Linked DNA regions of Homo sapiens. The protein of the gene in region 1 interacts with the protein of each later gene in a pairwise test. Each region holds a gene or a part of one and is shown on either strand. Other genes may lie near its edges. The genes, in order: SERPINA5, PIAS4 and RIDA.

The links.
Region 2: the proteins of SERPINA5 (region 1) and PIAS4 interact in a two-hybrid assay, tested with the Homo sapiens proteins (one large-scale study listed by BioGRID and IntAct).
Region 3: the proteins of SERPINA5 (region 1) and RIDA interact in a two-hybrid assay, tested with the Homo sapiens proteins (one large-scale study listed by BioGRID and IntAct).

What each region holds. Positions count from the first base shown.
Region 1 is NC_000014.9:94,584,426-94,587,925, reverse strand, and holds part of SERPINA5 (plasma serine protease inhibitor preproprotein), read right to left. Parts: intron 581-3,500; 5' UTR 564-580; coding exon 1-563. UniProt on the Homo sapiens protein: Heparin-dependent serine protease inhibitor acting in body fluids and secretions. Inactivates serine proteases by binding irreversibly to their serine activation site. Involved in the regulation of intravascular and extravascular proteolytic activities.
Region 2 is NC_000019.10:4,021,200-4,024,923, forward strand, and holds part of PIAS4 (E3 SUMO-protein ligase PIAS4), read left to right. Parts: intron 1-2,836; coding exon 2,837-2,921; intron 2,922-3,724.
Region 3 is NC_000008.11:98,106,990-98,110,713, reverse strand, and holds part of RIDA (2-iminobutanoate/2-iminopropanoate deaminase), read left to right. Parts: intron 1-1,962; coding exon 1,963-2,068; intron 2,069-3,724. UniProt on the Homo sapiens protein: Catalyzes the hydrolytic deamination of enamine/imine intermediates that form during the course of normal metabolism. May facilitate the release of ammonia from these potentially toxic reactive metabolites, reducing their impact on cellular components.

The DNA.
Region 1 (3,500 bases):
AGCAAGTCCACAATCTTGCCCTTCGTTTGCTTTGCCACATAATCATTGATCTGCTTCATGGCCCCTGCAGAGTCCCTAAAGTTGGTAGGGAAAGTGTCTGCCAGGTACAGCGTCTTCATGGCACTTACGAAGGTGTCCTGCAGGTCTACCACCAGGTCGGTGAAAAGGGCATTGCCGAGGCTCAGCTGGAAGCCATCTCTGGGCTGGTTGAGTTCCTGAAGGAGCTGCTGAAAGCCTCTGTGCAGCTCCTTCTCTGAGCTTTTCTGGAGGTTGAGGCCCAGGCCCTCCAGGATCTGCATCTTTGTGCTGGACCCAGCCCCCAGGGAGAGCATGGCCAGGCTCATGGAGATGCTCACAGGGGAGAAGAAGATGCTCTGGCTGGGGGCAGCGGAAGCCAAGGCCCTGTAGAGGTCAAAGGTAAAGTCCCTTCTGCTGCTGGGGGCCACCGTGGCACCTACATGGAGGTCCTCGACTCTCTTCTTCATCTCCCGGGGGTGGTGGCGGTGAAGGGAGGCCCCCTGAGGGCTGAGAAGCACCAGGCACAAGAGGAGGAAGAGCTGCATGGTGGCTGTTCTTTGTTCTGAAAGGGAAAGAAGGTGTCCTCAGAGAGGGGTGGAGCTGGTCCAGGTGCTGACTTTCCAGAGATGTCCCCACCCAACACTCAATGGGTATGTTTGGTCCATTCAGCTTCAAAGAGAAGGGATGGCACCCGCAAGACTGGGCATGAGGGTTTACACAGGGTGGCAGTGGCTCGAGGACAAGATTTAGGGATGACGGGGAGAGGAAGGAGGGAGAGGAGGTGCAGACCCAAGGCAGGGGTCTGGCTGCCAGGGCAGGAATCCTGTCTACCCATCCACATCAAGGGACACATTTTGGAGGATGGGATATGGAGGGAGAGGGTTCCCTCTGCTCTGCTCTGTCTCATCAGCATCTCGAGGTTACCAGGGAACTAAGCTGCTTCCATGTGAGCTTCTGGCCTTCACTCTGGTGTCCTGGTTTGGCACATGGCAGGGCGCTGTGGTCCTTCTATGAACTCAGACCAGCTACATGCCTGGGACCATCAGCACTGCTGGCCTTGCCCTGTTCATTCAGCAAACGCTGAGTGAGTGTCCACCCTGGGGTAGGCAGAATACCAGTATGCAAACTGTCCCCTTCTCCTTCCCCCAGGGGCTGCTCCATGCCACCCTTGTCCCACAGAGAGACATCTTCCCCTCCTAAAGGAATTCTGCCTGAACCTCTTCATGTGGACATCCCCACCGTCCTCCTGTTCTGGCTGAATTGTGCCCCCAAAATGCATATGCTGAAGTCCTTACCTTCAATACCCCAGAATGTGACTATATCTGGAGATAGGGCTTTTAAAGAGGGGACTGAGTTAGAATGAGGTCACTAGAGTGGGCCCCAACCCAATATGACTACGTCCTTACACAAAAATTAAAAAGAGGAGATCAGGATAGAGACATGCACAGAGGGAAGACCAGGTGAAGACAGGGAGAAGGCAGCCACCTGTGAGCCAAGGAGAGGGGCCTTGGAAGGAACAAATCCTGCTGGTGCCTTAATCTCAGACTTCCAGCTTCCAGAGTTGTAAAGAAAGAAATTTCTGTTGTTGAAGCCCCCTAGCCCCTGGGACTTTGTGACAGCAGCCCATGCAGGCAAAGACATCTTTTCATCTTCCAGATGAGGAGGCACTCATCTTTGTCTCTAGCTCTTCTCAGGGAGGCCTTTGTGGGGTCTCCCATCACTCCTGACGTGGCCTTGGCCTTCAGTCCTCCTCTTCCTCCCTCCACTTCACCCAAGAGCCGTTCCTGTGCCCATGCCTCCCCATCTGGCTACGGGTAGAAGTCTTGCCTCCTCCCTCTGCAGTAGGAAACAGCTCAGGCTCTGAAGCCACTGCCTGGGTTCAAATCTCAGCCCTGCTGTGTCCTTGTAGTGTGATTTTGGGCAAGTCAGTTACACCTTGAGCCACTGCTCCATAACTGTAAGATAGTGATAATAACAGCACCTACACCATGGGGTGCTTGGGGGCACGTGCTATGGAAGTGTGAGCAGTAGGCATGGCAGTTTCTGGCAAAAGCCCCATCTGAGGCCTCCATATTCTCAACTGTACCATAGGGTACATGCTTTACACACACACACACACACACACACACACACACACACACACGTGTGAGCCTGACAGCACCCAGGCTGGCTAATTACCAGGTGCAGAGGGCCTGCCTGGCTTCTGATGTGAGCTTTGCCCTGTGTGTCGCCTTGGAGGGAATCCCTTTCTGCTGGGCTCTCTCCATGGGCACAATGTCATCAGTGACCCCAGATCCCCACCAGGCAGGGGCAGCCTGTCACAGCATCCCGTGACCCAATTAAAACCAAACTCCAAAGGGCCCCAAACAGGTGGGTGGGAAATCCCTTGCAGAGTGGCCGTGGGGCTCAGCAGTGGAGAGAGAATGGTCTCAGGAATTGGGCAGGCTTGGACTGCAGGCCTGTCTTTAAGTGAAGTTGAATAGCTCCAGCAGGTCACCCTTGCCAGCCCAGCCTCCAAATTGTGTCCTGAGCTCCTTCCGAGAAGGAGCCTCATGTAGAAGTTTCTGCCTGCAGAATCGAACCTGGCACCAAACCCAGCAGCCACAGCAGTTGGGCGCATTGCCCGCACCCTCTTTCAGGCACTGTGCCAACTCCTTCAGCCCTGCACCACCCAAAAAGGTACATCTTGCTGCTAGCTCTATTTTACAGATGGGTAATCCGAGGTTCAGAGAGATGGAGTCGCTTGCTAACACTGGCAAAGCTTGGACTCAGACTCGGTTATCACTCTGACTCTGCAGAGTCCTGCCTCCTCTGCAGAGTCCTGCCTCCTCTTTTCCTGGCTGCATCTTCCTGATTTTGAAATCCCTGACTTAGTAGCCACCAACAATAGCCCTAATCTGCAGATAATGAGTGAGCAGAGTCTGGGCTTCCCCCCACTGACACTCCCTACCTGTTCCCACCATGGCACTTGCCTGGAGAGCTTTGAAGGACATAGGTGGGTGCTTTAATCTCCGGCTTCTCTAAATGAGTCTATTTTACAGCACAATATGGTCCCTCCTGCCAAGGGTTGGAACCAGCCATGTATGGAGATGCTTCTAAAGAAACAATGTGGCTCAACCCCCCACAGGGTCACACTGAGCTGATAATTTCGAGAACAGCTTCAGAAGCAGGGGAGTTTCCTTATTGGATACAGCCCAGGGGCAGCTGACCAGAGAGTCTCAGTGAGGCCCTGGCCTCCATTCTCCCATCTATTCAGCTACTAGGTCACCCTGGGCAAGCCTCACCCCCTCTGGGCCTCAGTTTCTTCATCTGCAGTCTGCCATGTGTTGTGGACACCCCCTCAAGACCCCGCCCCCTGCCAAGCACTAGAGATCCGATGGGGAGGAGCTGCTTCTCCGGGTGTGCACTGAGTCTCCCCCAGGATCTGTTTGGAGAGGGCCCCAGGTTCACTTAGGCTCTCCTGGGCTACATGTTTGAGACCC
Region 2 (3,724 bases), on another chromosome or scaffold:
TGGAGTGCAGTTACACAATCTCGGCTCACTGCAACCTCCGCCTTCTGGGTTTAAGCGATTCTCCTCAGCCTCCCGAGTAGCTGGGATTAGAGGCGTGTGTCACCATGCCTGGCTAATTTTTGTATTTTTAGTAGAGATGGGGTTACCATATTGTCCAGGCTGGTCTTGAACTCCTGACCTCAAGTGATCCACCTGCCTCGCCTCCACAGTGCTGGGATTCCAGGCATGAGCCACCGCACCTGGCCTGGGTGTGTAGAGAGGATTTAAACCGGTCTTGGATTTCTACACAAATCGCAGGGGCCTGAAATACTGGCTGATATTTTGTGGAGGATTTTACATCTGTGTTCATGAGGGGTATTCATCGGGAATTTTCCTTCCTTGATGCTGAGTTGTGAGGTTTTGGTATCAGAGTTATGCTGGCCTTGTAAAATAAGAAGTATGCTTTCCTTCTCTGTTTTTTGAAAGAGTTTATGTACGGTTTATGTGGTTTCTTTCCAAAATGTTTTATAGAATTCACCGATATGGACCTGCATTTTCTTTTTCTTTTTTTTTTTTTTTTTTTTTGAGATGGGGTCTGATTCTGTTGCCCAGGCTGGAGTGCAGTGGTACGATCATGGCTCACTGCAGCCTCCACTTCCTGGGTTCAAGCAATCCTCCTGCCTCAGCCTCCAAAGTAGCTGGGACTACAGGTGGTGTGCACCTCCACACCTGGCTAATTTAAAAATTTTTTGTAGAGACAAGGTCTCACTTTGTTGCCCAGGCTGGCCTCAAACTCCTGGGCTCAAGCAATCCACCCACCTCAGCCCCCAAAGTGCTGGGATTACAGGCATGAGCCACCATGCCCAATCTGGACCTGCAGTTTTCAGAAAAGGTTTTAATTATGGATCCAACTTCCTTAACAGGTAAAGAGCTTTTCAAACTTCCTGTATCTTTTGGTACCCGTTTTGGTAATTTGCATCTTTGGGAGGATTTGTCCATGTCACTAAGTTGTCAGATTCATTGGCATAAAGTTTCACCTTTTATTCCCCTATTGAACCGAAAAGCTGTAGGGTCTGTACTATTGTTCTTTCATTTCTGATATTGGTAGTTTGTGTTCTCACTGTCTTTTTGTTGTTCAGCTAGAGTTTTGTTTTTTTTGTTGTTGTTGTTGTTTTTGGTGGTTTTTTTTGAGACAGAGTCTCGCTCTGTAGCCCAGGCTGGAGTGCAGTGGCACGATCTTGGCTCACTGCAAGCTTCGCCTCCCTGCAAGCTCCGCCTCCCAGGTTCGCGCCATTCTCCTGCCTCAGCCTCCCTAGTAGCTGGGACTGCAGGCGCCTGCCACTACACCCAGCTAATTTTTTGTATTTTTAGTAGAGATGGGGTTTCACCGTGTTAGCCAGGATGGTCTCGATCTCCTGACCTCGTGATCCACCCCCCTCGGCCTCCCAAAATGCTGGGATTACAGGCGTGAGCCACCGCGCCTGGCCGTTTGTTTTTGTTTTTGTTTTTTTGGGTTTTTTTGGAAACAGTCTCACTCTGTCGCCCAGGCAGTGGTGTGATCTCCACTCACTGCAACCTTTGCCTCTCAGCTTCAGACAATTCTCCTGCCTCAGCCTCCCAAGTAGCTGGGATTACAGGCGCCCGAACCAGGCCTGGCTATTTTTTTTTTTTTTGAGACACCACACCCTGCTGTTTTTTTAAGAGATGCGGCAGCCAGGCGCCGTAGCTCATGCCTGTAATTCCAGCACATTGGGAGGCCGAGGTGGGCAGATCACCTGAGGTCGGGAGTTCGAGAGCAGCCTGGCCAACATGGAGAAACCCTACCTCTACTAAAAATAGAAAATTAGCCGGGCGTGGTGGCTCATGCCTGTAATCCCAGCTGTTTTGGGAGGCTGAGGCAGGAGGATCACTTGAACCCAGGAGGTGGAGGTTGCAGTGAGCTGAGATTGTGCTATTGCAGTCCAGCCTGGGCAACAAGAGTGAAACAAAGTCTCAAAAAAAAAAAAAAAAATGGGGCTGGCTGGGCACAGTGGCTCACGCCTGTAATCCCAGCATTTTGAGAGTTTGAGATGGGCGGATCACCTGAGGTCACGAGTTCGAAACCAGCCTGGCCAACATGGCGAAATCCCATCTCTACTAAAAATACAAAAATTAGCCAGGCTTGGTGGCTATTCGGGAGGTTGAGGCAGGAGAATCGCTTAAACCCGGGAGACGGAGGTTGCAGTCAGCCGAGATCGTGCCATTGCACTCCAGCCTGGGCGACAGGGTAAAACTCCATCTCCAAAACAAAACAAAACAAAACAAAACAAACAAAAACCAATGTTTTCTGACTGCGCCTCTGCCTGTCAGTCCAGTTGTAAGTAAGAGGGTAGGGCCCAGGCTTGTGAGCACCATGGCCTTCATCCCGTCAGTACCCCCCGCACCACCTCTGTCCGGGTGACGTGGCCACCCTGCAGGCAGGAGGAGAGCAAGGGCCGGGTCCGGTTTGTGCTCAGGAGAGAGGAGGTATGGCAGTGTCCTGCTGGCCTGGCTGGGTCCAGCTCTCCCCGCCAGGCAGCTCGGCACTTTTCGGTTTCCTAAGTAGACGCCTGCATCCCACAGGCTGCGAAGGTCACCCAGCAATCTGAGTGGCCGTCAACAGGACACAGGCCATGGTGAGCGGCCCCGAGAAGGGGATGGGCGGGAGTCCTCCCTCATCCTCCTTCCTGGGCGGCCCCCACCTCTGCCCCACATATCTGTCCAGCCAACTTCCCATTTCCTGTTTCCTGGTCTGAAGAGGCGCAGGCTGGGAAAAGCGACTGGGCTCGGGGGACCTGCCAGGGACCAGACATGCCCCTGACCCCGTGTTTGTCTTCAGTCCCACAGAACAACGAGAAGCTTCAGGAGAGCCCGTGCATCTTCGCATTGACGCCAAGACAGGTGGAGTTGATCCGGAACTCCAGGTGTGCGGCACCTCCCCCAGCCCAGCACCCCACCGCCCGCCCACCCACTTTCTCCTGGGCTCACTGGGGAGAGCCGGCAGCCACGTCCACTGCAGGCCTCGCTCGGGCTCAGTCCAGAACCGTGCTGCAAGGCAGTGGCCGGGTTTGCTTCCTTCCAGAAAACCCCATCCTGGGTCTCAGGTGCTGGCCTGTGTGCCCACTGCCTGTGCCCTGCAGCCTGCTAGAGAGAGGCGGACTGACTGTGCCCTTTTAACACGGTCTTGCCCTCCTGGGCCCATCCTGGGCATTGCAGGGAGCGGAGGAGCATTCCTCGCCTCCACCCACGCCATGACAAGAACACACCCCTGTTGTGACAACCACAGATGTCCCCAGACATTGTCCAGTGTCCCCTAGGGCAGGATAACCCGGGCGAGACCTCCCTGGGTTAGGGGATTCCACGTATCCCCAAGAGACTCTGTGTCCCATGATCCTCTGCCCTGCTGAGGTCCCAGAAGGCTGCATACATTGAAATCCACACCCTGAATTGGAGGGGGAGAAAGTAGGTGAATCCCAGGAGCTGGGGGTCCCCGGTTTACACCGCCCGCCTTAGGAATTTATTCTGGTGTCCAGCATGAGCAGGAAGTTAAGTCAGGTGTTTTTTTGTTTTTTTTTTTTGAGACTGAGTGTAGCTCTTGTTATCCAGGCTTCCAGGCTGGAGTGCAGTGGCGCGATTTTGGCTTCCTGCAACCTCCACCTGCTGGATTCAAGCAATTCTCCTGCCTCAGCCTCCCAAGTAGCTGGGATTACAGGCGCTCACTACCACG
Region 3 (3,724 bases), on another chromosome or scaffold:
CAAAAGTATATCCTTAATTGATCCTCCAATAAGCAGTGACTAATCTTGTCTGAAGATGACTACTTATGTTTTTAAAAGTGCTCTTGAAATTGCATTTTTTTGCTTTACAGCTATATTGAGGTATAAGTTACTTATAAAAGTTACCCATTTTAATGGCTGGGTGTGGTGGCCCACGACTGTAATCCCAGCACTTTGGGAAGCGGAGGCAGGCGGATCACCTGAGGTCAGGAGTTCAAGACCAGCCTGGCCAACATGGCAAAACCCCATCTCTACTAAAAATGCAAAAATTAGCTGGGCGTGGTGGCTCACACCTGTAATCCCAGCTACTTGGGAGGCTGAGGCAGAATTGTTTGAACCCGGGAGGCGGAGGTTGCAGTGAGCCAAGATTGTGCCACTGCACTCCAGCCTGGGTGACAGAGTGAGACTCCATCTCAAAAAAACAAGTCACCCATTTTAATTAAGTGTAGTGTTCCATGAGTTTTAGTAAATGTATAGAATCATGCATCCACTATAATAGTCAAATTTTAGAATATTTCTATCACTCCCAAAAAATTCCCTTGTACCCATTTATGATCACCCCTGGCCCTAGACAACAATTAATAATCTGCTGCTGCTATTTTCTTTTCTAAGGTTTCATTTAAGTGAAATAAGACAATATATAGTCCTTTGTTGGATCTATCAGTGGGTGCATGTGTGTGTGTCTTGCTTTTTTGCTATAAATAATGCTATTCTGAACATTCACGTAAACTCTTTGGACATATGTTTTCATTTCTCTTGGATAGTTGCCTAGGAAAGAAATTGCTGAGTTGAGGCTCAAGCCTGTAATCCCAGCACTTTGGGAGGCCAAGGCAGGAGGATCACTTGAGTCCAGGAGTTTGAGACCAGCCTAGGCAACATAGCAAGACCTCATCTCTACAAAAAATAAAAATAAGTAAATAATAAAATAAAAAATTAGCCAGGCATGGTGGTGCACACCTTTAGTCTCAGCTACTTAGGAGGCTGAGATGGGAGGATCACTTGGGCCTGGGAGGTCAAGGCTTCAGTGAGCCAACATCCTACCACTGCACTTCAGCCTGGGTGACAGAGCAAGATCCTGTCTCTAAAAGAAGAGTTTGCTGGGTTGTATGTTAAATATATGTTTAAATTTTTAAAGAAACTGCCAAACTATTTTCTAAAGTGGCTGTACCATTTTGCATTACTACCGACAATGTATGAGGGTTGCTCCCCATCATTGCCAATGCTTACTTTATCAGTGATGTCTTAGTGTGTGGTTTTGCTTTGCATTTCTCTAATGACTACTAATGTTGAGCAAATTTCATGTACTCTAACTCTTTGTATATTTTCTTTTGTGAAGTATCATTTGCTCATATTTTATTGGGTTTGTCTTCACATTATTGACTTTTAAGAGTTCTTCTTATATTCTGGATATAGGTACTTTATTAGGTATATGTTTTGCAAATATTTTTCTCCCAATCTATGACTTGCCTTTTCTTCCCCCGACCCCTTTTTTTATTTTGGGTCTTTCTCTGTTACTCAGTGCCACTGAGGCTGGAGCGCAGTGGTATACTCATGGCTCACTTCAGCCTTCAACTCCTGGGCTCAAGCAATTCAATCACCCTAGCCTCCTGAGTAGCTGGGACTACGGGTGTGCGTCACCATACTTGGCTGTTTTTTATTGTTTTTTGTAGAGACTGAGTGGTTGCCCAGGCTGATCTCAAACTCCTGGTCCCAAGCGATCCTCCTGCTTCACCCTCCCAAAGCACTAGGATTACAGCACCCAGCCCCTTTTCATTTTCTTAAAGATATCTTTGATAAACAAAAGTTTTCAATTTTCATGAAGTCCAATGTATCTGTTTTTTTTTTTTTACAATTTATACTTCTCTGTCCTATCAAAAAAGTCTTCTAGCATTGAATTTTATGTTTTATACTTACATAAATACACTAGCTTTCTGTTTATTGCAGTCAAGCTGTATTAGTCGACAGGACCATTTACATTTCAGGACAGATAGGCATGGACCCTTCAAGTGGACAGCTTGTGTCAGGAGGGGTAGCAGAAGAAGCTAAACAAGTAAGTTATTTTCCACATTTAAGGTTCCCTTTTCTACTACCTTTTTAATGTTGAAGAGCATTAAGAATCCACTTGCCTGATTTGTTTTATAGAGATTAACAGATAAATGTTTTTTAAACTACTTACTGCTTGATTTAACATAGTTTTTGATCTAAGAGTTGGAAATTTGATGGATCATGAATCATCTAACAACCAAAAGAGAGATTCCACCTCCTTAACACTAAGGTGACCTTAAACCTGAATTATTGACGTCAGATGACATGTTGCCACTTCCACATGGATTGGGAAATTTTCTTCTCAGGGCCACTGACCTGCCCCTCTTCAAAAAAAAAAAAAAATTACCACCACAGAAGTAAAAAGTCAACATTTTTAAAAATAAGAATGGGGAATATAATTTTAATCCAATAAATATAATTAAACCATAATTTAGGCCAGGCACGATGTGGCTCACACCTGTAATCCTAGCACTTTGGGAGGCCGAGGCTGGCAGATCACTTGAGGTCAGGAGTTCAAGACTAGCCTAGACAACATGGTGAAACCCCATCTCTACTAAAAATACAAAAATTAGTTGGGGGAGGCCAGGCACAATGGCTCACACCTGTAATCCCAGCACTTTGGGAGGCCGAGGCGGGCAGATCACCTGAGGTCAGGAGTTCAAGACCAGCCTGGCCAACATGGTGAAACCCCGTCTCTACTGAAAATACAAAAATTAGCCAGGTGTGGTGGCATGTGCCTGTAGTCCCAGCTACTCGGGAGGCTAAGGCATGAGAATCGTTTGAACCCGGAAGGCGGAGGTTGCAGTGAGCTGAGATTGTGCCACTCCACTCTAGCCTGGGCAACAGAGCAAGAACCCTGTCTCAAAAAAAAAATAGAAAAAAAAAGTAACCCAGTCAGGTGGCACATGCCTGTAGTCCCAGTTACTCAGGAGGCTGATGCAGAAGAATCGCTTAAACCTGGGAGGTGGAAGTTGCAGGAAGCCAAGATCGTGCCACTGCACTCCTGCCTGGGACACAGAGCAAGACACTGTCTCAAAAAATAAAATAAAATAAAACAATAAACTATAATTTACTGCATTTACTGAGTCATATAATGCTGAAAGTTTGTTTTGTTTTGTTTTGTTTCTTGAGACAGCCTTGCTCTGTCGCCCAGGCTGGAGTGCAGTGTCGTGATCTCAGCTCACTGCAACCTCTGTCTTCCAGGTTCAAGCAATTCTCTTGCCTCAGCCTCCCAAGTAACTGGGACTACAGGCACACGCCACCACACCTGGCTTATTTTTTGTATTTTTAGTAGAGACGGGGTTTTACCGTGCTAGCCAGGATGGTCTCGATCTCCTGACCTCATGATCCACCCACCTCAGCCTCCCAAAGTGCTGAGATTACAGGCATGAGCCTCCACACCCGGCCTAGCTGAAAGATTTTTAAAAACCTAAATATCCACTCATAAAGAACTGGTTGAATAAATTATGCTAGATCAATACAACTAAAGTAATGTGGAAAGATCTCCGAGGTAAATTGTTCCATGGTAATAAAACCAAGATGCAGAACAACATGCACAGTATGCTACCATGTGTGCTTGTGTGTTTAAAAATATGTAACATAAGCATTGACTGTACCTAGAAGGATATACAATAAATTAGGAACAGTGGTTACCTCTGAG